Linked DNA regions of Homo sapiens. The protein of the gene in region 6 purifies or fractionates together with the protein of the main gene of each other region. This does not show direct contact. Each region holds a gene or a part of one and is shown on either strand. Other genes may lie near its edges.

Region 1 (3,500 bases), on a different chromosome or scaffold from region 6:
CAAGTTTTCTATGGGTAGTATTAATACTAATATGATTTAGCTTATGTTTAAAAAAATCAAGAAAAGAAAAATTTTGTCTTTAAAATCTACTATATTAGTGACTGTAAGGAGATGCTTAGCTATTGAAGAGCTTCTCTCCACTCTTGTATTTTCTTTATGAGTTCTTCTGAGAGATTTTCACTGTGACTGTTTTGACCTCTGTATATTCATGGAAACCGTACTCTCCCCTAGAGAGAAGAAAAACATACCCACAAACACCATTTAGCACAGCAGTATAAATATACTGTAGTTCATGTTTGGTACGAGTTTGTTCTTGTTTTACTGGCTAGGGACAATAGAAAATATTTCTTGTGTACAGAGCATTTTATATAGTAGCTAGCCAATCATAAGATTTCTGGTCTTACACAGATTCCCTTGTGGGGAAAATTTTCTTTAAAACTTTCATTTTAAATAATCATGTACTGTCAGTTGATTTCTCACATAAATTGTCCCCTTTTGACATTATTCTACTTGATTTTAAAAACTCGAACTGCAGATGCAACAAGATCATCTTGGAGAAATGAAAACAAAAAGCTCTAAAACTACTCAAAAGACAATTCGACCCAACAAGAATTTTGTCATTTCTAGTTTAGATTGAAATAAGATGGACATAGGACAAGAGGAGAAGTAGTAATATATGATCACTACAAGGTCTACTCTAGTTCTACAGTTTTATTGTAGTACTAGAGCAGAGCTTGTATTTACCATGTGTGATTGTCATAGAAGTGGTAAGGGGATAGAAATTGATCATGGTTTCATTTTTAGTCTGAGGTGCCCTAAGATGGCTTGAAACAAAATATTTTGCAGCAGTAGTTTCAGCAAAATCTTTTGATTCTTGGCAAAACAAAAACATGACCTTTATTTTTTATTTAAAACTTTTAAATTGTTTTCTTTTTAAGAGGAGGAAGATGATAGATTGGTCTAAATTCAGGCTCTTGGGCTTTTTGCAGTTGTTGTTTTTTCCCCTTTATACAACCTCCTCGTCCCCTACCATTTTCTTGTATAACTCTTAAGTTCAACCCAAATGATCAGGAATTAACTCAGTCAATCAGTTTGGATTTTGGGATCTTGTTATCAGGTTTATGGAGACCTCCCACCAGTTTTAGAAACTGACTGATTTACCCCTTGTTGAAGAGATGACTAAAAAGATTGGGCTCAGTTATTCTCTATATTGTTTTGATAAGAGGATCAAATTACATGTATATAAGAGTAGTCTCAAAATCATAACACTCATGCACATGTAGGCTTACAGAAGAATAAGATCTTGATCCTTTTTTACCCCTCCCTTCTTGTGATGTAGACAGGTATGTAGAAGACATCATTTTCTGCTGGGTAACCTAATACTCTTACACTGATTATTTTCTTGGGCAATTAAGCTTTTGAAAATACCTTTTAAAAGCTTCAGTGAGCATGGTCCTTAAAGTAATTAAAGGGCTTAGCCTCAGTTGTCTGAAACCCATTAAAAGATAATATTTTAATAAGTATTTTATCTCAGGGTTAGATCAATCAACCCATGACTTTCGCCAATAGGCTTTCCATTGTATTTTGGGTCATATAGGCACTTGAAGCTCTCAGGAGAGTAATAAGTGGGATTTTTGTCATATTCAGGCTGAAATATGTCCTGCTCCTTAGGATTCCTATGCCTATACTATATCTACGACATAGCCCCAAACATCTGTTTGGATTTCTCTTCATCTTACTATGTCTGTGAGTTACTGTTTGTATACTTCTAAAATCTTCAATGTACAAATCACCTGGGACCTTATTCAAATACTGATTCTGAATTAGCAGGTCTCGAGTGAAGCCTGAGTTGGCATTGGTAATAAACTTGCAAGTGATATCAACCTATGCTTCTTGTCCAGGGTCCACACTGTAAAAAAAAAAAAGGCACTAGTACCACATTACATCTGATTTCCTCTCTGTACCCAGGATTAAGACTGGCACTAATTAAGTAGGCACAGAAGAACTGTTTGCTGAACACACTTGGTAAATATCAAGAAAAAAAATTCATTTGTGTTCTCACTATACGACCATTAGTTTACACTTCCTTGCTCCCTTTTCTATGGGACAGGAGGAAAAAAATATGGTGGGAGGGGCTAAGAGCCAATCAAGTTTAAAATGGCATACTAGCAAAGTCTTAAAGGACCTACGTTAACCTAAGTGAAACAGTACAGTTACACAAAGGGAGGAATTTCTGTCTTTTAACTAATCCCAGAGCCAACACTATGATCAGAGATGCAAAATCAAGATTTGCATACTCTGTATCACCTTCAAACACACTGGGGTCTGCATAACACCATTTTTCGCTCTTTGAGGACTCTGTTCTCAACTGATCAATTCTCTCTATTGTTGAGGAAAATTTATAATTTAACTCTTGGGAGTCATTTGAGGTTATCGCCTGAGTAATAACTTGTAACTCTTGGAACATCTTGCAGCAAATGACTTGGTTATTAAATTCACCAAATTTGGTTTCAGGTACACTTTAACTGTAGCATTCTCTAGTTGAATTTTTGAAGTAAAAAAAAAAAAACCCACAACTTTTTCCTTTGTATTTGAAAGAAATTATCTATACTCATGTTCTAGATTTTTAGGAAATTACTGATGGTTGATTCCTGTTTTCAGTCCTTCTCTTATTTGATTTCTTTATGCCTTCACCTTAAAGTCTGACCAAATTATGTTCAACGAAATTGACATGTTTGGTCTACTTTAGTCTTGCATTCCTTTTGATTATTTTATCTTTAATGTTCTCAGTGAAATGTGTTGTTAGATAACCAGGCCAGAAACGAACCAACTGCCCTTCAGAGTAATCTAACCTTTGTTCTTACTTTTTGTACAAAGTAATTAGTTTTGCCAAGAGATTCTCCAGTAATAGAAAGAGAAGAAACTAGGGAAGGAAGAAACCCATTTGTTGAATTTACACTTTGTGACAGTTATGTGGCTAGGGATTTAATATTCAGTATGTCATTTAACTCCCACAAGAACTCTCATTCCATCTTAAGAGGAATGTGAACATCTCCACCAAATATGAGAAAGTAGAGGCTCAGAAGTTAGGTAGCTTGAACTGGGGTGCATGGCTAGCAAGTGGCAGAATTAGGAATCAAATTCAGCTGGTCAGACTCCAGTAATGTTTTCTCAGCTACGCCATGCATTTTTGATGGGCTAACTTTTTGTTCTACTTCAGCAACATCCTAAATATATCCATGGCTTTTCACTACTCCACTAATAAAATCTAAGTCAAATTTCTTAAATGCAGGACTTCTTAATCTGTATCATATGTTACTCTGAAATCATATTTTTCATCCCCATAAATCCACACCAATCAACAAAATTCACTAGCCCCTCAACATACCACATGTAATGTTCCATGCAAGAAAGCCCTCTTCTCTACTAACTGATATCCTACACTTGCTTTCTGCCCTAGAGGAAGTTTCATCTCTTCTGTTAGGAGAAGTTTTCTTCTC
Region 2 (3,500 bases), on a different chromosome or scaffold from region 6:
CCATTTCAAAAATACACAATCATAAAGAAAAAAACTAGCTTACACAAACCTAGGAACCATTTCCAATTTCATTTTGCTTTTATCCATTTAAAGAGGCTTGGCTTTCTTACATCTCAGAACAAGCCAATTTCAAACAGTATTCAAAAGCACGCTGAAAAACACCACTTACTTTCTCAGCTTGATCCCATACTTCGATATCTCCAAGGAATTTTTCCGGGCGAGTAGAAAGGTTTAGTTTAAAAGAAAATCCAAATACGCTATATACCGTACGTAGAAAATCCAAACAACCTTTTATTTCATCTTCAATCTTCAAATTAAAAAACAAAAAAAGAAACAGTAGTTATTTTCCTTGACTTTCTTGACTCTTCTTTCTAAGTATTTTATTCCCAGGGTCTCATACCTGCTCCATGGCACAGAATATGTGAGCATCATCCTGTTGGAATCTTCGTACCCGGGTGAGTCCTGTGAGTGCTCCAGACAGCTCGTTCCTATGAAGTACCCCAAAATCAGCTAGCCGCAGAGGCAGTTCTCGCCAGGACCTTGGCCGATGATCAAACATAAGGCTGAAGAGAAAAAGAAAAGTCCACGGACACTTAAGAATAAAACTGCTTCTGTAATGCTATATTTAATTACACGAAAGGTTGTCAAAAAGCCACTGATTCTAGCTGTCCATCCAAGCAACATTTCTCAAATTCTGGGCTACATACAGCAGTAAAAGCACTTGCATGAATAAAACAGCAAATAAGTTATAACTCAATGAACCACAGTGAAGAATTAAAAAACGTATTCCAACAACTGAAGAATCTGGGAAAATTAAGAATGAACTTGGTTGGTCCCCTAGCCTATAATACAGCTTCTTCACAAAGATTCTTCTCTCACCTCCTCTGCCCTCCAGGCCTGGCTAGTAGGAGCTGCAGACACTAAGCTACCTGTATCCACAGCTCTCCTGTGTCTTCCCTTAAGCTGTTCTTCACCCAACTTTCAAAGATAGAAAGCAGAGCGGCCTCATGACAAGGAACATTTTCCAAGAATGCTGAGTCATTAGCAGGTTTTGACAGAACAGGTTTCTTTAAAACAACAACACACTAGGTAATTTGTTACACCCCCATATTTCATCTTCCTGTTTTATAGTCTGCCTTGGTCATTGCTATGATCCCAGTACCATTACTGAATGCCCACAGATCTGGAGATCTGGCTGGGCACAGTGGCTCATGCCTGTAATCCCAGCGCTTTGGGAAGCCAAGGTTGAAGGACCGCTTGAGGCCAGGAGTTTGAGACCAGGCTGAGCAACGTGGCAAGACCTCATCTCTACAGAAATAAAATTTTAAAAATTAGCTGGGCATGGTGGCATATACCTGCAGTCCCAGCTGCAGTGAGCTATAATCGCATACCTGCACTCCAGTTGGAAGACCTCTTTAAAAAAAAAAAAAAAAAAAGTGGGGATCTAATCAGGTGCAGAAGATATAATACAAAGATGTTGCGTTTAAATGCTCTTCTGATCACATAATTTGTTTTTAATGAAAATGTTGTTAAAGGAGGGAAGAACCCAGGATGAATTGTAGCATGTGAAAATCTTCAGTAGAAATTCAAAGCTGCCGAATACCAGTGTCCTGGGCAGTTCATGGGTTTCAGGGCAAACAGCTCCTTCTCCACCTCAAAGGAGAACATGTTCTCGCTGTAGTGCTGCCAGTGGCCCGAGGTCATCCAGAGTCGGCTGTTGAAGATGTTTGGGGTGACTACCTCCTGGAATCCTCTTTTCCTATATTCGCTCTGATAGAAAATAAACAGAAACATGTGTAGGCAAATAAATGCTCATACTTCAAGTGGGAGTAAAAACTTAAAGAGTGATTTTATACTCTCTCATGAAAAAGATGGACACATGCCATGATTCAGAAATCCCACTTCTAAGTATATACCAGAGAGAAAACTCTTGGCACATGTACCTAAGGAGGCTTATAAAAGTGATGCTACTGCAGCATGGCTGATAATAAGGGACAATTATACATCAGTGTCCATCAATACAGGGATGAGTGCATTGTGGTAGTTATATAACAAAATAATATGTAGCAAGTGAAAATAAACTTGATTTGCATGTCTCTAAAAATAAATCACAAGGCAGTCTGATACACAATGAGGCTTCCTATATGTAACACACAAATACATAAATAATTTAAGGGTACAAATACATGGGCTAGATATAAGTAACATGGACAAAAAGAATCCATGCCAACTTCAAAACAGTAGTTTCTTCTAGAAAACTGGTATATGATATACCAGTATATGGATATATATACCAGTATATGGAGGTATATGGATCAAAACTGGGTCCTAAAGAGAGGCTTTTTAAACAACTAATTTTTTTTTTAATATCATGAATGAAAAAATCTCAAGCAAATATAGCCCAATGTGAATATTTGTTAAATGTGGGTAGTTAAGTACAAGATATTGGATATACTATTCTCTATAAACTTATACTTGAAACATTTCATAATTTACAAAGGAAAAAAGCAATGTAAAAACCGTTTTTTCAAAGAAAATACAAATAAATGATCAAAGTCAAAGAGGGCACAGAGCTCCTATGTCAAGGACCACAGGTCCCCCTTCAAGCTCACCAGTTTCTATGTGTATATGGGCAAAATCAACTATTAGGGATGATTTATGAGGCCACAGACTTCTACTTTTACTTATCGTCTTATATATTTCTTCTCAAATACAGATTATCTTTCCTTTTAGTAGACCTTATTTAATAAAATGATCACATATCCTAAATCTAAAGAAGAAAGCAATAAATATGACTTACCCTAATGAATTCAATAAGTGCATTATAAATGTAGGCTCCTTTTGGCAGAAAAAAGCAACTTCCAGGGCTGAGTTCATGAAAGAAATATAGTTCTTGGTCCTGGGTAAAAGAAAAGCAAAAGAATGTTTATGTACGTCACGTATACGTGTGTGTATATATACATAAATTTCAGTGTTCTTGAGCTCAGAATATGGTCATGATGTCCCATATTTCAATCAGTGCCACTCCTGAATCAAAGAAACCATGTCAGTGTTTCTGATGTTATAGAATTGCAGCTGATTTACAATTTGGCAGACGTGTAACACATGCCCTGCCTGTTATATTCCTCAATCCAGTCAAGTTTCCCCAACAGTGGCAGGGAATAAGGGTCCCTTCAGTTCTTTAACTATCCACTGCAGTACCTCTCATGGTTCTTAAATTCCTTAAAGCTCCAAGATCTGGATCTTTTTTCATTTTATTTATGTATGTATTTATTTTCTTAGTAAGAGTATCAGGAAGGAGACTGGGAAAAAGACACTGATAATGAAATAGATGATGGTAAAGTTGGCTGACTTTGGGTCATGGTGAAAGAAACACACCCTCCTACCTCCTTGCCAACATCCGCCTCCCCAAGTGCCCAAAAGCCCTCAGGGAAGGGCCCATCAATCATTGCTGGCTGCCTCATAGCTGGAATGTCAGGTAGTCAGGGGTGCAAGGCAGT
Region 3 (3,500 bases), on a different chromosome or scaffold from region 6:
GTTTCAAAATGATACCAATTTTTAACAAAGCTTTCGCCTCAATTTTAAAATGGTTCTTAATGTTTAGTTTAAAATCTCTAAAATCATTTTAAAATTTAATTATATCATATATTTATTGCCTTATCTTTATGATTCACATGTAAATGTATTCACTCAAAAAAATCTAATCTTAGGCATGGGGTAAGAGTCCTTAGTCCAGTGACCAAGGTTCCCTTTGAACAGTCTAAACCTCCCATGACAGTGTCTGCATATTATTTTTCTTTTTCATTCTTTCTCAAAACAGTTTTATTACTAAAGGCAATCACAGGATTCTAGAGAATCTTTTTCTCTCTTCTCTCTCTTTGATTCTGATCATATTTGTGGGCTTGCTATGTATGACTAGGCTCATTTATTTATTTTTTTTTAAAAATCTTCTTAGTTTCAATAGACTGTGGACTTAGCTGATCCCTCCCCCAAATAAACACAGACACAACTATAATACAAATGCTAAGCTTCACTGCAAATTACTACACACAGTGCCCCAAATATTTGTCCTACTTAATATGCATTAAATAAAAATGTACGAGAATTGTGAAAACTCAGAAACAGCCAATTGTCAGCTAGGTTACAAATATAAATGTGACTGTGGTTTTATATTGCGTTTATTAGCAGAATTTTTTTCATTTTTTATTTTTTTGTTTTTGGCTAGGAAAGTTGCTCCTAGTTCACAGGATAGAATTATATTAATATTCCATGATGTTCTTTAGTGAGAATATGACTTCCTTATGCTTTGATACTTGAACAAGCGTGAGAAATATTTTTCTATAAGAAAACAGGGAAGTATGAAAAATTAGCCCCCAAAATTAAGCCCTATGGAAATTAAAAGTTAAAATTTCTTATGCTAGCTTATTTTTGTTTTTTGTTTTCAGTAGAGATTAGGGTTTCACCATGTTGGCCAGGCTGGCTCAAACTCCTGACTTCAAGTGATCCTGCCCATCTGGGCCTCCCAAAGTGGTGGGATTATGATTGTGGGACACTGCATCCAACCCCTTATATCAGGATATAAGGTGAAATAATATTTCACATTGTGCCAAATAAATCAGGCACTGACATATGTATACATTAAATTACAAGAACTGTTTTGAAAGCAAATGAGACATTAAACTCATCTATACTGATTTACATTGAATATTAATTTATTTAAATAGAAAAGAGAGAAATAAGAAAGTGTACACAATATATAACTTTGCCTATCACTGAAAGAGTCACAAGAAGATGCAGTAGAAGAAATGGAAAGTGTGTAGTAAATGAGACCTATGTAGATGACATTGGGTACTTTCATTGATGATTTTCTCCTCTTTTCTACCCCATTTTAATAAGATTTCAGAATAGACAACACAATTGAATAATTTTATTTTTTGTAAAGTGAACTAACATACTTTTTTTGTAGACTTCCCCTGCTGGACCTGTCCATATACCAAGCTGTGCAGCTGTGGCACAGGTATGTGCAGTTACACCTGGCAGCAGGTGACAAACCCCTTCAGGCTTGTTCTAGATGTGTTTTTAGATTCTTATTGCATCCCCCAGGGTCAAATCTCTTGGCTCTGTTACTGACTTCTAACTTGGAATTGGATGGGAACACTCCCTTTTCCCACAGGAAAAGGCCTTTCAGCTCCAGTTTCTAGTGTTCTGGGCTCTTTGAGAAACACAATATCTCAGGTTCTAGCCTTGGAGGACACAGAGAGGCCACAATGGAGGAGGATCCTGGAGTAGACAATGTGGCTGTGTAGCACTGGAGGTGGTCAACAGTGGCTGACCGCTCTGCCAGGCTACTGTCTGGTAGGCTTCAAATTCCCATTTGAGATCTGTGGCAGGGGATGGGATACCCAGGAGAGAAAGAAAGAATTCATAGGCTTCTGTGAAAGGCCAGAATATTTGATTTTATGGGCCGTTTTAATCTTAATTATAACTTCAAAGCAAAATGTTTGTAATCACTAATCTCATTTTAAAGTTAACAAGGTCATGATCCCTCAAATAGCCATTAAAACTATGCTATTTCTGTGGCATGTTAAAATCTTATTGCTGAACCCCCAAAATGTGTATGAAGTTTATTGGTTTAGTAAGAGTTTGAAAGTTTCTGTAGCCAATTGGAAGCTGATATAAGAATATCTAGGCCTGGATAAAAGCCAGGCAAACTAGCAGTTTATTTCTCCAAGTAACCAGCTGTGGTTTGTGTTAAGTGTACTGCCTCTTATCATCTCTGCAACTTCCAAATATTCCATGATGTTCTTTAGTGAGAATATGATTTCCTTATGTTTTGATACTTGAACAAGGGTGAGAAATATTTTTCTATAACAAAACAGGGAAGTATGAAAAATTAGCCCCCAAAATTAAGCCCTACGGAAATTAAAAGTAAGTTAAAATTTCTTATGCTAGCTTCTCAGCATAAGTTCTCAGCAATATCATGGTGGGGCCCTGGTTCTTCAGTGCTGAGGAAAATACCTAGTGGTAGTCACTGGTATGAGTGGTTTCAGCATGCAAGACTGTTATGTTTGATCATAGTAGTCAGGAAAGGATGGGAAAGACACTAGAGAACTATTGCCCCTGGGAAAGACTGTTAAATAGCCAGTCTGAATTACTGATGGAAGGAAAGGTTAACAGCTGGGCTACGACTACCTGCTTTAGCTTCCTGAGGAAAGATTTGACCTCAACTCAAACTCCCTACAACTCTGAAGGCTGATGAGGGTCTTTTAGCATCTGCCATTACTCACCACTAATCCAAGAATAAATGTTCCTCAGCTTGCTGTACCTGGTGCCAGGATTGTTTATTGTATAACTTGTAATTTTATGGGCTATATCCACACTAAAAAAGGGAACTATTCATATGCTTTATCAAGGTCTACATGGCTAGCACTAGCACGGTATTTAAGATGCAAGACTTCAGACATGCATGGCAGCTTCCCAGTGGTGATGTGACCCATGCTCTCGTCAGCCCCTTGTCAACCTTAGGACCAAAATTCAACCCTTGTGGTGACTGTGGAGGGGCCTCAGAAGCTGCATCTGAGTGACTGAGTCCTCTGTGAAACTACTGTTGTGCTTCCTGTTATGTACCTGTCTAAGTAAAATCAGAGTAAGGTAAGCCAACAATGTCTTGTGAGTTTGACTAATAATCTGAACTTAAACTTACTACTGTGGTCTTGCAACTGGTCTTTCATAATGCTTTGCTTATGAAAATAATAATTTCTAGGTCAAGGCTATCACTAAGCACACACTTTGTCTTGCTCCCAAGGAAGACCAATACTTGGCTTTTACTATTTTTGAGTCCTTGAACTGTTTCCTTTTATTCTATATATACTACTTGGGCCACAAGCAGTAATCCAAGGCAAACTGTACCAATCTATTTCACACTATGACCCTGTTGAGCTGAGATCACCCCATGAGTTTTCACATAGAAAAATGATCAGCTTGTTAAAAAAAAAAACAAAAAACAAAAACAGTGGTCTATGTAATAGCAGTTTTGA
Region 4 (3,291 bases), on a different chromosome or scaffold from region 6:
ATGTTATAGGGCCCAATATTCAAAGAGCTACAATGCATAAACCATTTTATAGGTAGACATAATCCAAAATGTAAAGACACAGATAAATGACTGCTCACATATACAGTTATAACTTGTTAATTACGGAATTGAGCCTATCCTTTGTGATTACACCGAGAGCAAACACTTGGAAGCTCGCAAGTGGTTTACTCCAGACCATATTTGAGTTCTACAAAATAACACTAGTGATTGATTTCATGATCATAAAAAACATTAATCAGTTGTAAACATTTCTAATGCTTGCCACTTTTCCTTTTCTTATTATCATTTCCATTTTCATTTTGTATTTTCTGCTAAGTGGATAAAATACTACTAATAATATCCACCAAATTTTGGGTACTTATGATGTACCATTGTGCTTGTTTTTTTCACACATTATCTCATCATCTCTATTACTTGTTAAAATCTCCACTGCCATCAGTTACATAACTTCTTTTTCCCTCATTATTTGAATGACCTTCTATGAATCCTAGAACCTTAGAATATAGAGGAATAGTAAACGTCTGTTACTGGTTATAAATTATCTCCAATAATGGTGCTTTTGCATCTACACTCTGCATTTGATTTTAACACTTCCTCATTCTCTACACTGAGATCTCCATATTGCAGAACACCAAGGCCAAGTGCTCCTATTCGCTCCACTAAGACAGACTTTCTGGAGGCAAATGCAGTATTTGGCTCATGGGCAAACATGCAAAGAAAGGCACGAAAAAGGTTTGAAATGATTAAAAATGCTAAATTGACAGGATCCAGCAAGCAATTCCATGTGAAAGAGGTGGGAATTGGAACCTGGCCCACAAGATTGACGGAACTGCCTTTGATCTGGTAAGACATTGAGCAGGTTGGGAAGAACAAGATAGAAGCACAGATTTGGAAACATCTAATGCGACCACATGGGCCATATCCACAGTGTGTACACTAGACAGTAATACAAACGGCAGGCCTACATGGAAGGTGCAGATTCAGCAATGATCTTGGCTGCTCTGGAAAGTTCCTTGGAGTCACGAGAGCAGAGGCACAGGTTGACCCATGCTGACCCCAGGCCACTCTCCCTGCCAGAGAACAGAGCTCTGGAGTGAATCCAGGAGGAGACTTCCAGAAAGCTCCTGTCTCACCTCTGTCTCACGTTGGCCTCTGTGCCCCTGGTGTGGAGGTCACTCTCAACACCCATCCTACGTTCCTCCTCTGAAAATAAATTAGGACAACCATCTCCAAAATTACTTACATATCAAGGGTCAAATATCGCACATTTCTGTTTAGGCCATCTATGGCTTTCATCTCCTCTGAAGTCAACTGGAATTCAAACACCTATCAAAGTAATAGAAAACTTTAATTATTTTTAGATTACATCATTGCCAATTGGGAACAACCAAGTTCATCAGACAGTAGGGTGCAGAGACAATACTTAAAAGATTGATACGTTTCCAAAATTTATGAAAGACCTCTCTAAACACCCAAGTGGTCAATGAAAACCAGTCAAAAATAAGCAGAAATCCATTCCCAGATAAAATATTTTGAAACTGCACAACACTGCAGATGAAGAGAATATCTCAGAGGAAGCTGAAGAAGAAACAGAGCTTACTTTGTGCCCACATGATAGGGCCATGTACCTAGAAGACCCACAAGAATCTAGAGGCAAATTTTGTAATGTCTAGCATAATTTAGTAGGTTTGATGAATAACATTGAATATCTATCTCTCCAATGAACAGGTATAATAGGAAAAATCAGTTTTCAACATCACTCAAGCCAATAATTGTCTAAATACTAACGATTTCACATTCAAAAGGTGTGGGTACTCACTATGTAAATTTGGGAGACTCTAAATATCAAAAAGATGTCACTCTTTCTAATACATTCAATCAAATAAGTGTATAAATCCATAGGGAAACTGAAGGAGTAATACAGAAAATGAGAGAAAGAGAGTAAAAAATGACAGCAATGTAACACTTGATGAATGTAGGTAAGAAGATTTGTTGCATTATTCTTTTAATATTTCTATATATTAGAAAATCCACAAAATGAAAATGAAAAGTTATCAAAAACTATTAAAATTATCAGTAATTGCCGGGCACGTTGGCTCACGCCTATAATCCTAGCACTTTGGGAGGCCAGCGCAGGAGGATTGCCTGATTTCAGGAGTTAGAGAACAGCCTGGGCAACACAGTGAAACCCGTCTCTACTAAAATACAAAAAATTAGCTGGGCATGGCAGCATGCGCCAGCAGTCCCAGCTACTCTGGAGGCTGAGGCAGGAGAACTGCTTGAACCCGGGAGGTGGAGGTTGCAGTGAGCCGAGTTCGTGCCACTGCACTCCACCCTGGGTGACAGAACGAGACTCTGTCTCAAAAAAAAAATGATCAGTAATGGAGAAATTTATGCAATTAATGATATATTTATTAAGAGATGATTTATTAATAAGTAGTGGGATATTCATATTATGATCATGGACTGGAAATCTCAATATTGTCAAAGATTCAGTTCTCTCTGCATTGATCTGCAGGCTTATTACAATGTCAATGAGAGACTAAAACATTTACTTGCCTGTGGAAGTTAATAAGATGATTCAAAATTTTAAATAACACATTAGTCAAGAATAGCTAAGATATTATTAAATAAATGAAGAAGTTAGAAAAATATTTGTACCATACTGGAAGTGAAACTTACTTTTTAACATTATAGCACAGAAAAGTGAATAAGTTAACTGAAGATGGAAGAGAGGCCAGATAATTGCTCATGGACATTTCATATATGTGTCAGGTAAAAAAATTCAAGTTATGTGAGCAAATATAAACTTTTCAATAAATGGTAAATTTTGCTAAAAATTCAAAAATTAGATACGCATATTTGGATCCTTATTTCACATAATATTTTAAAAGTCATACCCATTAGAATTAACCAAATTTATAAGGAAAGAATATTAACAATTTTGTAAGATAACACAGTAAAATATTGTGATATTCCCAATATAGGATAAGACACAACACACACCAACCACAAGAAAGAGGCATGAAAAATTAGTCTACATGAAGGATAGAAACTTTTGTTTGTGAAAACATAACCACAGAGAATATGACAACGCAGATAAAATTTGGGAGATGTTATTTCAAGAATACATTCAAGTCTCTAAAGAATTCATATCCAGAATAAATACATATATATGTATGGTTTCTAGTTAATCTAACATATATATTATATAACACATATGTCATATATCATATATATCTATATATACTAGATGAATTAGAGAACATA
Region 5 (3,500 bases), on a different chromosome or scaffold from region 6:
ACATCCTGAAGCAGAGCTGCCTCACTGCCCTGAACACACATGAGAGCCCAGCCAGGAACAGAAGGAATGGACTGAGTTTAGGCTGAGCCCAGGCTAATTTTCTAACCATGGAACCTTGAGCTCAATAAATGCTTTTGCATTAAGCCTCTATATTAAGTGGGTTTGTCTTATATCCTAAGGTATTGGTATAAATATGGTCTCCTACACATAAAAATAAAGACACACAACCACCTCGCCAAAAAAAAAAAGGCAGAGTTAAACAAGCACTTCGCAAAGATAAAATTCTAAGAGAATAAATATAAGGAATTTATACTACATAAACATACAAGAAGAAAAATCCGCCATGAGTTGGAGACTAAAGAACATCTAATCAATGCTTCATTATAAAAAATAAAGAAAAGGACATGGCCCCAGCAGAGGGATATGGATATCACTGACTTAACGCTAACCCAAATCTGTAGTTTTGATCCCATCCTATTTCTCTCCACCTCTGTTGCCTCTCCTGTGCTAGAGTAGAAGAAACCCTTATGACGTACACAAAGAGTTCATGCATAGGAAATACAGGGAAATGGAGCTGGCCCAAGGCTGTCCTGAGAGCCTTACAAGAAGCACACGTGTGAAGGACACTGTGCAGGAGACCTGAGGCCCACAGCCCCGCTCCTCACCTGCACGTTCTGTCTGATGCGCTGCTCATTGTAGCTCTTGGCCAGGACCACAACCCCACGCTGTAGCTGGTAGCGCAGGGCAATCAGGGCTGGGGTTCGCTTGTGCTTTTTTGCCAAGGCACAAAGGACTGGGTCCTCCAAGAGCACCGGGGAGTTCGGGTCCACCCTGGAAGGAAAGGCAGAAAGGCTGAGGCCCTGAGGCTGGGGATACAGTTTGTTAGGCGGCTCCCTAAACAGACTAAGGCGTCCACTCTGCACCGGAGCTTCTCAAGCGAGGCCCCCGAACAGCAGCCTCAACATCACCTGGGATCTCGTCAGAAATGCAAATTCTTCCCTCACCCCAAGTCAGCTGTGAGTGAACTCCAGGAAACAGCATGATCTGATTAAATTTTTTTTATCAAACCGGTGTTTTAGGTAAACTTCCTGTATCTCTTATTACCATGGTTCTTCTCGGTGGGATCCCAGAGCACTATAGGCAACCAGAACAATGTCTTTTGACTTGCAGAAATCCAGCAGTTTTCTCTGGTTGAAGTAAGGATGACATTCCACCTGCAGACGAGCAAGATGGAAAAGCATCAGATAATCCAAAAGTTACACTAATATTAAAATCACCAAAGTAAAAGAAGCTGAATAATGTAGAGCATTAAATTTGAACTGAGAATATTATTGTCAAAAATGATCTTTTTCATAAAAATAAATTTTATGCCCCTCTCTCCTAAGAAAATAGAAATGCTATTTCTGAGCACAAGCAACTCCATGAACCCTATCCTGGTTTCTCAATAACTCCGACCACTAGAACGAGACACGGCCAATTTCAGAGCTGGGATGAGGTAAGATTCTTTGAGCCTTGGGCATCAAATCGTGCCAGAAATCAAGAATTTGGTCAAAGACTCATGAGGGCAGGTCTGAAAGACAAAAGAACTAGTTTCCTAATTAATACCAAAAATGCATACATGTATATGTATGTTTTCTAATTGATCTGACATATAATATATATATCATATATGCCATCTATGATATATATCTATATAGATGAACTAGAAAATATACATACACACATAAATACTGATAATTTTCACAGTCTTTCATTACTTTTCCTTTTTGTATGATGGATTTGTATGTTGATATCTCAAATGTCACCAGTGGGTTCCCTATGAAACAAGTGCTTTTGTCTTTTACACTTGCCCTCATGAGTCTTTGATCACATTCTTCTTTCATATATATTTTATATATATATATATATAATATATATATGCTGAGTAGATGTGAGCATTAAAAAATGAGTAAAATAAATTAAAAATCATAACACAAGAATCCGTGAGTCTGTAGTAATTAGTGCGACAATGAGAAAAAGAACAACAATCTTTGTCTACTCTGATGGTGGTCATTACAGTAATTACGTTCACAGTACATTGCTAATTGAAGGAAGAAGTTCACCTTTACCCTCACTTAGAGGAATAGTAGTTTATTATTTTTACTTGGTGAGAAATCATTTTTAATTAAATGTCAGGTAAGAATAGTTAAACAAGTGGTTAAAATTGTAAATGATTATGTAAAAACCCCAAGGAAATAACAAATAAGAAATAACAAAGAAGAAAACAGAAATGCAGTAGAAAAAAGTTCAAATCACTGATGTATACTCAATCATATGTGAAAATTTGTCATGGGAATATGACTTCTTCTGTTGAGAATTATCCCCCAGCAGATTACTAGTAATTGTTAAAGAGAAAACATGAGTTAAAAACAACAGATCTGACCACTGTTAGCTTAACCAAGTTTTTTTTTTTTTATTATACTTTAAGTTCGAGGGTACATGTGCACATTGTGCAGGTTAGTTACATATGTATACATGTGCCATGTTGGTACGCTGCACCTACTAACTCGTCATCTAGCATTAGGTATATCTCCCAGTGCTATCCCTCCCCCCTCCCCCCACCCCACAACAGTCCCCAGAGTGTGATATTCCCCTTCCTGTATCCATGTGATCTCATTGTTCAATTCCCACCTATGAGTGAGAATATGCGGTGTTTGGTTTTTTGTTCTTGCGATAGTTTACTGACAATGATGATTTCCAGTTTCATCCATGTCCCTACAAAGGATATGAACTCATCATTTTTTATGGCTGCATAGTATTCCATGGTGTATATGTGCCACATTTTCTTAATCCAGTCTATCATTGTTGGAGCTTAACCAAGTTTTTAAAACTACCTTCACCACTAGTGGGGCATTCTGTGATTGTATGCAGTCTAGTGTGGTGCAATTTGAAAAACACAGCATGATAAAAATATTTTCTTGCCCCAAAGGTTTAAGTCAATGTAATAAAACACTCTCATCTAACTTCTAATTTACAGAAACCTTCAACAACTGGGAAAAACAAGTTAACTGATATCAAAATACAACAATATAAAAACAATTGAATTCTGGTTAAAAAAAGAAGAGCTACAAAAGATATTTTGATTAAGCAAGGAAAAATTCAAATATGGACTGGATACCAAATGACATGAGGGCACTATAGATGATGTTCTTAGATACAGTAATGACACTGGAACTGGGAGAATATCTTCATTCCTGTGACATGCTTTGAGAGGTCTCTAGGGGTCAATTGTCATCTTTACAATTTACCTTGAAGAGGTTCTAGAAACATTATATGTATTTATGCAGATATACTCCATATAACATTGCAAAATGTTAGTAATTTTGAATATAAATGGTAACATGGGTCTCCAGTATTATTTTTATCAAATTTTTGGAAAGTGTGAAAATGGCCATATTAAAAAATTGGGGAACTACTAGTATTAAAACCACATTAATTTCTCAATGCTTTTATTAAATTAT
Region 6 (3,500 bases):
GGAGAATCGCTTGAACTTGGGAGGTGGAGGTTGCAGTGAGCCAAGATCGCACCACTGCACTCCAGCTTGGGCAAGAGTGAGACTTTGTCTCAAAAAATAAATAAATAAATAAATAAATAAATAAATAAAAAGGTGAGACCAATTTAAAAAAATGAAGCCCAAGGCAGTAAATAATTTTATACTTTTTTTTTCCCAGGAATGGTGGTTAGGTAAAAAAATATGCTAAGATAAATATGGATCCTAATCACAACCATCCATGCTTATAACCAACCTGTGCAGGTTTTACCTTCATTTGCCTTAAGCATACCTGCCCATTTGCCTTCTTCCTATTATTTTCAAATGTAATATGAACTTATAAGTATTTTATGTGTCACCTTAATATTTAATTCTTTTGCCACTAGACTTGGCTTGAGAGGGAGACGGCATTTATTTTTCTGAAAAAAGGACTGTACTCGTTCCATACTTCTTTGGAGAACAACCTATAGAAAGAGATGTGATACTGTAAGTACATAATGAAAATGAAGATCTATTTTTCAGACAAGTTATGCTGTGGATACAATTTATAAAATGCCCAGTTGTCAAACGGTGAAAAAAAGGTTGTTACTAAAGAGAGTTAATTTTTACTATAAAACTAGAATGGCCAAAGGCTATAAATATAGTGGGCAAAGGTACATTTGGCCAACCAATGTATACGAAAATGTTAAAGCTCACTAATAGTCAAAGAAATAGAAGCCAAACAAAAATGAATGCAGTTTTTCACCTATCAGATGAAAATTTAAAACAACATCCTGTGTTAGGAAACGATTTCATAACTTATTGGTAGGGAGAGAGGTGTACACAGGTGTAGCTTCTTTTGTAGAGCAATGTAACAACTATTATAACTAAAAATACATGTCGCTCTTGACTCAGCTATTTCACCTGTAGGAATTTTCTGAAAGAAATACTAGCAAAGAAATAAAAATGTACACACCAACCAAAGTTCATTGCAGTATTGTTTAGTAAAGAGAAAACAGGTAAACAATGTATATAGAGGTAATAGTTTATAATTAAGATTGTATGTAATATTTCCCCAAATTAATCTATAATTCTTATCAAAATTCCAACTGCCTTTTTGCAGCAATGGATACACGGTTCCTAAAATTCATATGAAATTGCAAGTGTCCCCTGAATAGCCAAAAATAATAATGAAAAAGAACAAAGTAGGAGGACTTACATTGTCCAATTTCAAAACTTACTATAAAACTATGGTAATTAAAAAAAGTATAGGCTGGGTGGATGGCTCATATCTATAATCCTAGGACTTTGGGAGGCCAAAATGGGAGGACTGCTTGAGCCCAGGAGTTCAAGACCAGCCTGGGAAACATGGCAAAACCCTGTCCCTACAAGAAAAAAAAAAAAAAAAAAAAAAGACAGGCATGGTGGCAAACACCTGTGGTCCCAGCTACTTGGGAGGCTGAAGCGAGAAGATCACTTGAGCCCAGGAGGCTGAGGCTGTGGTGAATTGTGATCACACCACTGCACTCCAGCCTGGGCAACAGAGAGACCTCATCTCAAGGAAAAAAAGGAAAAAAAAAAAAAAAACAAATATAGCATATGGATAGACATATATGATATAGAATTGAGAGTCTAGAAAAAAACCCATATATGTGGTCAACTTTTTTATTTAAAAATTTTTAACAGAACACTTCACGAATTTGCATGTCATCGTAGTGTAGGGGGCATGCTAATCTTCTCTGTATCATTCCAATTTTAGTATATGTGTTACCGAAGCAAGCACAGGGTCAACTGATTTTTGACAAGTACGCCAAAACCATTCAAGAGGAAGGAGGGGGTCTCTTTAACAAATGGTGCTAAGACAACTGGATAACCTCATTCAAAAGAATAAAGTTGGGCCTCTACTTCATACCACAACGGATCAAAGACCTAAACATAAGAGCTAAAACTAGAAAAGCTTAGAAGAAAACACAGGTGTACATCTTTATGGCATTAGATTTAATGATGGATTCTTAGATATGACACTAAAAGCATGAGCCACAAAAGAAAAAAATAGATAAACTGGACTTCATCAAACTTAAACATTTTTGTATTAATATATTAAAGGACACTATTAAGGAATTAAAAAGACAACTGCAGAATGAAAAAAATATTTGCAAATAGTGTATGTGATAAAGGTCTAGTATCCAAAATATATAAATAACTCTTACAACTCAACAACAAAAAAGACATTCCAATTTAAAATGGACAAAGGACTTTGAATAGATATTTCTCCAAAGAATACAAATGGCCAATAAACATATGAGAATGTGCTCAATATCATTAGTCACTAGGGAAATTCAACTCAAAACCACAACGAGATACTGCTTCACACCCACTAGAATGGCCATAATCAAAAAACAGGAAAAAAAACAATGTTGGTGAGGATGTGGTGAAACTGGAACCCTTCTATATTGCTGGTGGGAATGTAAAGTGATATAGCTGCTACAGACAATAATTCTATGATTCCCCAAAAAGTTAAGCACAGAACTACCATATGACCTAGCTCTGCCATTCCTAAGTGGAAACAGTTGTTTAAACACAAATTTATACATGAATATTCATAGCAGTATTCTTTTTTTTTTTTTGAGACAGAGTCTTGCTCTGTCGCCCAGGCTGGAGTATAGTGGCTCGATCTCGGTTCACTGCAAGCTCCGCCTCCCGGGTTCACGCCATTCTCCTGCCTCAGCCTCCCGAGCAGCTGGGACTGCAGGCGCCCGCCACCATGCCTGGCTAATTTTTTGTATTTTTAGTAGAGACGGGGTTTCACCATGTTAACCAGGATGGTCTCGATCTCCTGACCTCGTGATCTGCCCGCCTGGGCCTCCCAAAGTGCTGGGATTACAGGCATGAGCCACCACGCCTGGCCAGCAGTATTATTATTAATAGTCAAAAAGTGGAAACAACCCAAATGTCCACCAACTGATGAATGTTTAAACCAAATGTGGTATATCCACACAATGGAATATTATTCAACCAAAAATGGCATGTAGTACACATGCTAGAACACAGATGAACTCTGAAAACTTTATGCTAAGTGAAAGAAACTAGACAGAAAAGTCCATGAAGTGTCCAGAATATCCATATAGAAGTATAGACGTATCCATATTGACAGAAAACAGTTTAGTGGCTGGGAGGGGAAAATGGGGACATGCTTTCTTTTTGGTGTGATGAAAATACTGTGGACTTTGATAGTGGAGGTAAAGGAATTCAAGAAAACAATTTTCATCAGAAAGGAATAAATAAGCATGGAAATAAATAAGCATGGGAAAATCACTGATTTTAATAGGTTGTGAAATATGTTCCTATATATTTTAAACAATCTTTGAATTTATCTGCCCCAAATAGCATGGGTATAGTTAGAGTTCTACTGGGAGTCTACCAATAAAGAATAGCAACTTAATTAGTCAGCACCATAAAGATCCTTCCTTTAACATTAACACATTTATATTACCTTTTATGGGTAC
Region 7 (4,140 bases), on a different chromosome or scaffold from region 6:
AGTAATTTGTAAATACGTGTAAATAATATAGTCCTCTCTTGTTGCATCAAAATGAATGCAAAAATGTCACGATGGGGCCGGGCGCGGTGGCTCATGCCTGTAATCCCAGCACTTCGGGAGGCCGAGGCGGTAGGATCACCTGAGGTCGGGAGTTGGAAACCAGTTTTCTGGTGCCTCCTTAACTTTTGCACTGGAGGGACAACGGAAGGGCCCTGTGTCATCCTCACCTCCCCCATCTGTGATTCTTCTGATGGTTAATTACCACTTTAAAGCTCTAGTTCTTTTTCCTTCACCTACTGAGAGTATATCTCCTTCTTTACAGTAACTTTTACTTTATAGAGTTTTTTTTGAGACGGAGTCTCACTTCGTCACCCAGGCGGGAGTGCAGTGGCACGATCTCGACCCACTGCAACCTCCGCCTTCCGGGTTCAAGCGATTCTCCTGCCTCAGCCTCCCGAGTAGCTGGGACTTACAGGCGCCCGCCATCACGCCCAGCTAATTTTTCAGTACAGACGGGGCTTCACCAGGTTGGCCAGGCTGGTCTCGAACTCCTGACCTCAGGTGATCCACCCACCTCGGCCTCCCATATTGCTGGGATTACAGGCGTGAGCCACCGCGCCTGGTCCCGTTTTGGCTATTCTTTAATATGCTTCCCTATAACTGCTATCTCCACACCAGCCTTGCCTTAGCTCATGGGAAACAAAACCAATTAGTTCCCCCATTACCTGCCTTGAGGAGCAGGGGTGGTGCAGTGGCATGCACCCAGGGAAGTGTGTTGTATGGGCCCCCAAGTGCAGAATCTGAATCTTGCAAAGGAAGAAACAAATTCGTCTCCACGGAGCATGTCTCCCCAGGACTCTCAGCCTTCCAAATCCGCAGTCACAGTGACTCAGCAGAATCTGAGCCTAGGGCACCACAGTAATCCGCATCCGGCTCTTTTTCTGCTCCATTTCGTGCCAAGGCTAAAAGGGCATGCCCACTTGATCCCTGGACTCTCTTGGGACGACTTCCACCCTGCATCCTCTTGCACCTCAGGGCACAGTGCGCAGATGGGCTTGCCTTAGCACCCCCAGCCAGATTTTTGAGGCCTCTGTCACACACACCCCTACAATCCCCTCCCCCAGCCCCGAGAGACTTTTCTTGACTTCCACCAGTTGCTCCGGCGGGTGAGAGTGGAGAGGCCCCTCCTTCATCCCCCAGGCTCCCTCCCTTCCTGGAGCTGCAGCCTCAGCATCCTCCGCCCAGCACCCCAGGATTCAGGCGTTGGGTCCCGCCCTTGTAGGCTGTCCACCTCAAACGGGCCGGACAGGATATATAAGAGAGAATGCACCGTGCACTACACACGCGACTCCCACAAGGTTGCAGCCGGAGCCGCCCAGCTCACCGAGAGCCTAGTTCCGGCCAGGGTCGCCCCGGCAACCACGAGCCCAGCCAATCAGCGCCCCGGACTGCACCAGAGCCATGGTCGGTGAGTGCTGCAAAGGGCGGGGTGCTTGGCGGTCGTCTCTCGAGCACTGGTGCCTGTGGAGGAGGTTGTAGGGGCTTGGCCCTGAATTTTGTTCCTTGACTCAAAACCCACAAAGGGAAGAGATTAGGGACCTGGGATGAGCCTTGATCGGACTCCGGGAGAAGGAGAGCTTCTGTTTGTATCCGGTGTCGCGGATCCTTCCTCACTCCACCCCACGAACTCTAGTGGGCATTTAGGAGAAACTTGACCTTGGAAGCAGAAATTCCCTCCAAAACTGTGGTCAGAAACTGGCCGTCAGAGGCCAAATCAGGCTTACGGTCACAGCCCATACCTCTTTTGGTCTATAGTATCTAAAACACTTTGAAATAAGTTGCTAACATTAAAATGGGTGATTTCACTTAAAAATGTGGATTCCGAGCTTCTGAAGAAAATGAGAATATCTGGCGATTGGTGGACAGGAGTGGAGGAAACTGATGCCTTTGGTTTGACGGAGACCAGAACCGGCTCCAGGCTGCCAGGCACAGGTTTTGTTTTGTTTTGTTTTGTTTTGTTTTGTTTGAGACGGAGTTTTGCTCTTGTCGCCCAGGCTGTAGTGCAATGGCGCTATCTCAGCTCAGCGAAACTTCCGCCTCCCGGGTTCAAGCGATTCTCCCATCTCAGCCTCCCGAGTAGCTGGGATTACAGGAGTGCGCCATCATGCGCGGCTAATTTTTATATTTTTAGTACAGACGGGTTTCGCCAAGTTGGCCAGCGCGGTCTTGAACTCCTGACCTCAGGTGATCCACCCACCTCAGCCTCCCCAAGTGCTGAGATTACTGACGTGAGCCACCGTGCCTGGCCTTGGGAGGCATTTTCCATTGAGGCCCTTGGATTAGGCAAACCTGATCAGATCGTACTGGATCCGTTTCTAGTATTGGGTCCACTTCAGTGATAGAGCCTTCCCACTCGGCCATCGACCCTAGGGGAACTCAGAGGTCACCCCAGCTCCACCCAAGGCATAAATAACCAGCTGAGACAACTGCAGGGATTGAGAGCTGTTTCCCAAATAATCTCACTCTGAGATTGGACAGTACTAAGATTTAGAAAGCTGTTGCCTCATCTGGGGCAGAATCCTGTGTTTTGTAATTTCCTTCCCTGTGGACCTGGTCCTGCCTCTAAAAATGCGCCTGTACACAAAGAAGCCCATCTTGGTCAAAGTGAGTGGAGGAACAGACTGCCCTTGCAGTTGACAAACTGAAATTATCAGGATCTCTGAGAAAGGGACTAAGCTGGGGATTGGTAGCCCAGCATGAGTTACTGGCAGAGACAGCAGGGAATAGATTCTGACAGCTGAGAGGCTTGCCGCATACACGGTGGTTGCTGTTTCCCTTGTATTTCATTCTTCAGCGTCGAGGCACTGGCACCCTCTCCTCCAATACTAGGGCAGGAACTATTTCCTGACTTTTCAATCTTACAGAATGTTCTGTATTTACGTGTAGCTTAAACACAAAAAAGGGCGGTGGTAATGAGGTGAAAAGGGAAGACTTGGATCTTGTATAATTAGTTTTAGCTGTACCCAGCTAACCAAATCTTGAGGTTAACTAAAGCATCCAGGTTTTTTGTTTGCAACTAATAGATGCATCTGATTTGCACTCATGTTCCCTGGAGCACTCAAGTGAGAAGAGAAGGCAGAAGGAGAATGCATGAAACTGATACAAAGGCTTATCTTTATCATACTTCTTTTTTTCTTTTTGAGACAGGGTCTTGCTTTGTTGCCCAGGCTGGAGTGCAGTGGCATGATCAGGGCTCACTTCAGCCTTGACCTCCTGGGCTCAAGTGATTGTCCCATCTTTGCCCCCGAGTAGCTGGGACTACAGGTGTGTGCCACCACACCCAGCTAATTTTTTTTGGTCAGAGCAGAAGAACTTGAAACCCAGCTAATTAAAAAAAAAAAAAATTTTGGCTGGGAGTGGTGGCTCATTCCTGTAATCCCAGCACTTTTGGGAGGCTGAGGCGGGAGGACTGCTTGAGGCCAGGAGTTCAAGACCAAGATTCAGCTCAAATGGCAAGCTCCTCTGAGGGCCTTTCCGAATGGGCCAGCCCTGAGGTCCTGAAGTTTTCCTCTGTTGAACTTTTTGAGATGGAGTCTCACTCACTCTGTTGCCCAGGCTGTAGTGCAGTGGCGTGATCTTGGCTCATTGCAATCTCCACTTCCCAGGTTCAAACGATTCTTGTGCTGCAGCCTCCCAAGTAGCTGGGATTACAGGCGCCCACCACCACGCCCAGCTAATTGTGTATTTTTAGTAGAGACGGGGTTTCACCATGTTGGCCAGGCTGGTCTCTAGCTCCTGACCTCAAGTAATCCACCCGCCTCGGTCTCCCAAAGTGCTACGATTACAGGCATGAGCCACCACACCCAGCCTTCTGTTGAACTTTGTCCCTTACCTCTCCTAACACACTAATGCCATTGTACCCTGAAGAGGTTATCCGTGTGTGCATCTTGTGGCCTCTCTCAGGGTAAACTCTAATAGTCTAACTCCTCCCAGGTCATGTTGCTCAGCTAGTTAAGTGGCAGGAAGGGAAAATGAACCCTCCAGGGCCCAGAAAACTTTTAAATTGCCTATTCACAAGCATCTTTTTGTTTGTTTGTTTGAGACAGAGGCTTGCTCTGTTGCGCAGGCTGGAGTGCAATG

What was found.
Region 1: the proteins of PIK3C2A (region 6) and ALDH1A1 purify together in Homo sapiens (affinity purification with mass spectrometry; one large-scale study listed by BioGRID and IntAct). This does not show direct contact.
Region 2: the proteins of PIK3C2A (region 6) and TARS1 purify together in Homo sapiens (affinity purification with mass spectrometry; one large-scale study listed by BioGRID and IntAct). This does not show direct contact.
Region 3: the proteins of PIK3C2A (region 6) and SNAP91 purify together in Homo sapiens (co-immunoprecipitation; one large-scale study listed by IntAct). This does not show direct contact.
Region 4: the proteins of PIK3C2A (region 6) and AKR1C2 purify together in Homo sapiens (affinity purification with mass spectrometry, with the first as the bait; one large-scale study listed by BioGRID). This does not show direct contact.
Region 5: the proteins of PIK3C2A (region 6) and AKR1C1 purify together in Homo sapiens (co-immunoprecipitation; one large-scale study listed by IntAct). This does not show direct contact.
Region 7: the proteins of PIK3C2A (region 6) and NQO1 purify together in Homo sapiens (affinity purification with mass spectrometry; one large-scale study listed by BioGRID and IntAct). This does not show direct contact.

Annotation. Positions count from the first base shown.
Region 1 is NC_000009.12:72,901,054-72,904,553, forward strand, and holds part of ALDH1A1 (aldehyde dehydrogenase 1A1), read right to left. Parts: intron 228-3,500; coding exon 155-227; 3' UTR 1-154. UniProt on the Homo sapiens protein: Cytosolic dehydrogenase that catalyzes the irreversible oxidation of a wide range of aldehydes to their corresponding carboxylic acid.
Region 2 is NC_000005.10:33,457,965-33,461,464, reverse strand, and holds part of TARS1 (threonine--tRNA ligase 1, cytoplasmic), read right to left. Parts: intron 2,900-3,500; coding exon 2,801-2,899; intron 1,771-2,800; coding exon 1,604-1,770; intron 564-1,603; coding exon 401-563; intron 308-400; coding exon 170-307; intron 1-169. UniProt on the Homo sapiens protein: Catalyzes the attachment of threonine to tRNA(Thr) in a two-step reaction: threonine is first activated by ATP to form Thr-AMP and then transferred to the acceptor end of tRNA(Thr).
Region 3 is NC_000006.12:83,587,102-83,590,601, forward strand, and holds part of SNAP91 (clathrin coat assembly protein AP180), read right to left. Parts: intron 1-3,500. UniProt on the Homo sapiens protein: Adaptins are components of the adapter complexes which link clathrin to receptors in coated vesicles. Clathrin-associated protein complexes are believed to interact with the cytoplasmic tails of membrane proteins, leading to their selection and concentration.
Region 4 is NC_000010.11:4,990,567-4,993,857, forward strand, and holds part of AKR1C2 (aldo-keto reductase family 1 member C2), read right to left. Parts: intron 1,348-3,291; coding exon 1,265-1,347; intron 1-1,264. UniProt on the Homo sapiens protein: Cytosolic aldo-keto reductase that catalyzes the NADH and NADPH-dependent reduction of ketosteroids to hydroxysteroids.
Region 5 is NC_000010.11:4,969,915-4,973,414, reverse strand, and holds part of AKR1C1 (aldo-keto reductase family 1 member C1), read right to left. Parts: exon of another isoform or gene 3,017-3,500; intron 1,496-3,016; exon of another isoform or gene 1,386-1,495; intron 1,215-1,385; coding exon 1,105-1,214; intron 1,017-1,104; exon of another isoform or gene 832-1,016; coding exon 666-831; intron 1-665. UniProt on the Homo sapiens protein: Cytosolic aldo-keto reductase that catalyzes the NADH and NADPH-dependent reduction of ketosteroids to hydroxysteroids.
Region 6 is NC_000011.10:17,113,987-17,117,486, forward strand, and holds part of PIK3C2A (phosphatidylinositol 4-phosphate 3-kinase C2 domain-containing subunit alpha), read right to left. Parts: intron 480-3,500; coding exon 375-479; intron 1-374.
Region 7 is NC_000016.10:69,723,761-69,727,900, reverse strand, and holds the start of NQO1 (NAD(P)H dehydrogenase [quinone] 1), read left to right. Parts: upstream 1-1,340; 5' UTR 1,341-1,461; coding exon 1,462-1,468; intron 1,469-4,140. UniProt on the Homo sapiens protein: Flavin-containing quinone reductase that catalyzes two-electron reduction of quinones to hydroquinones using either NADH or NADPH as electron donors.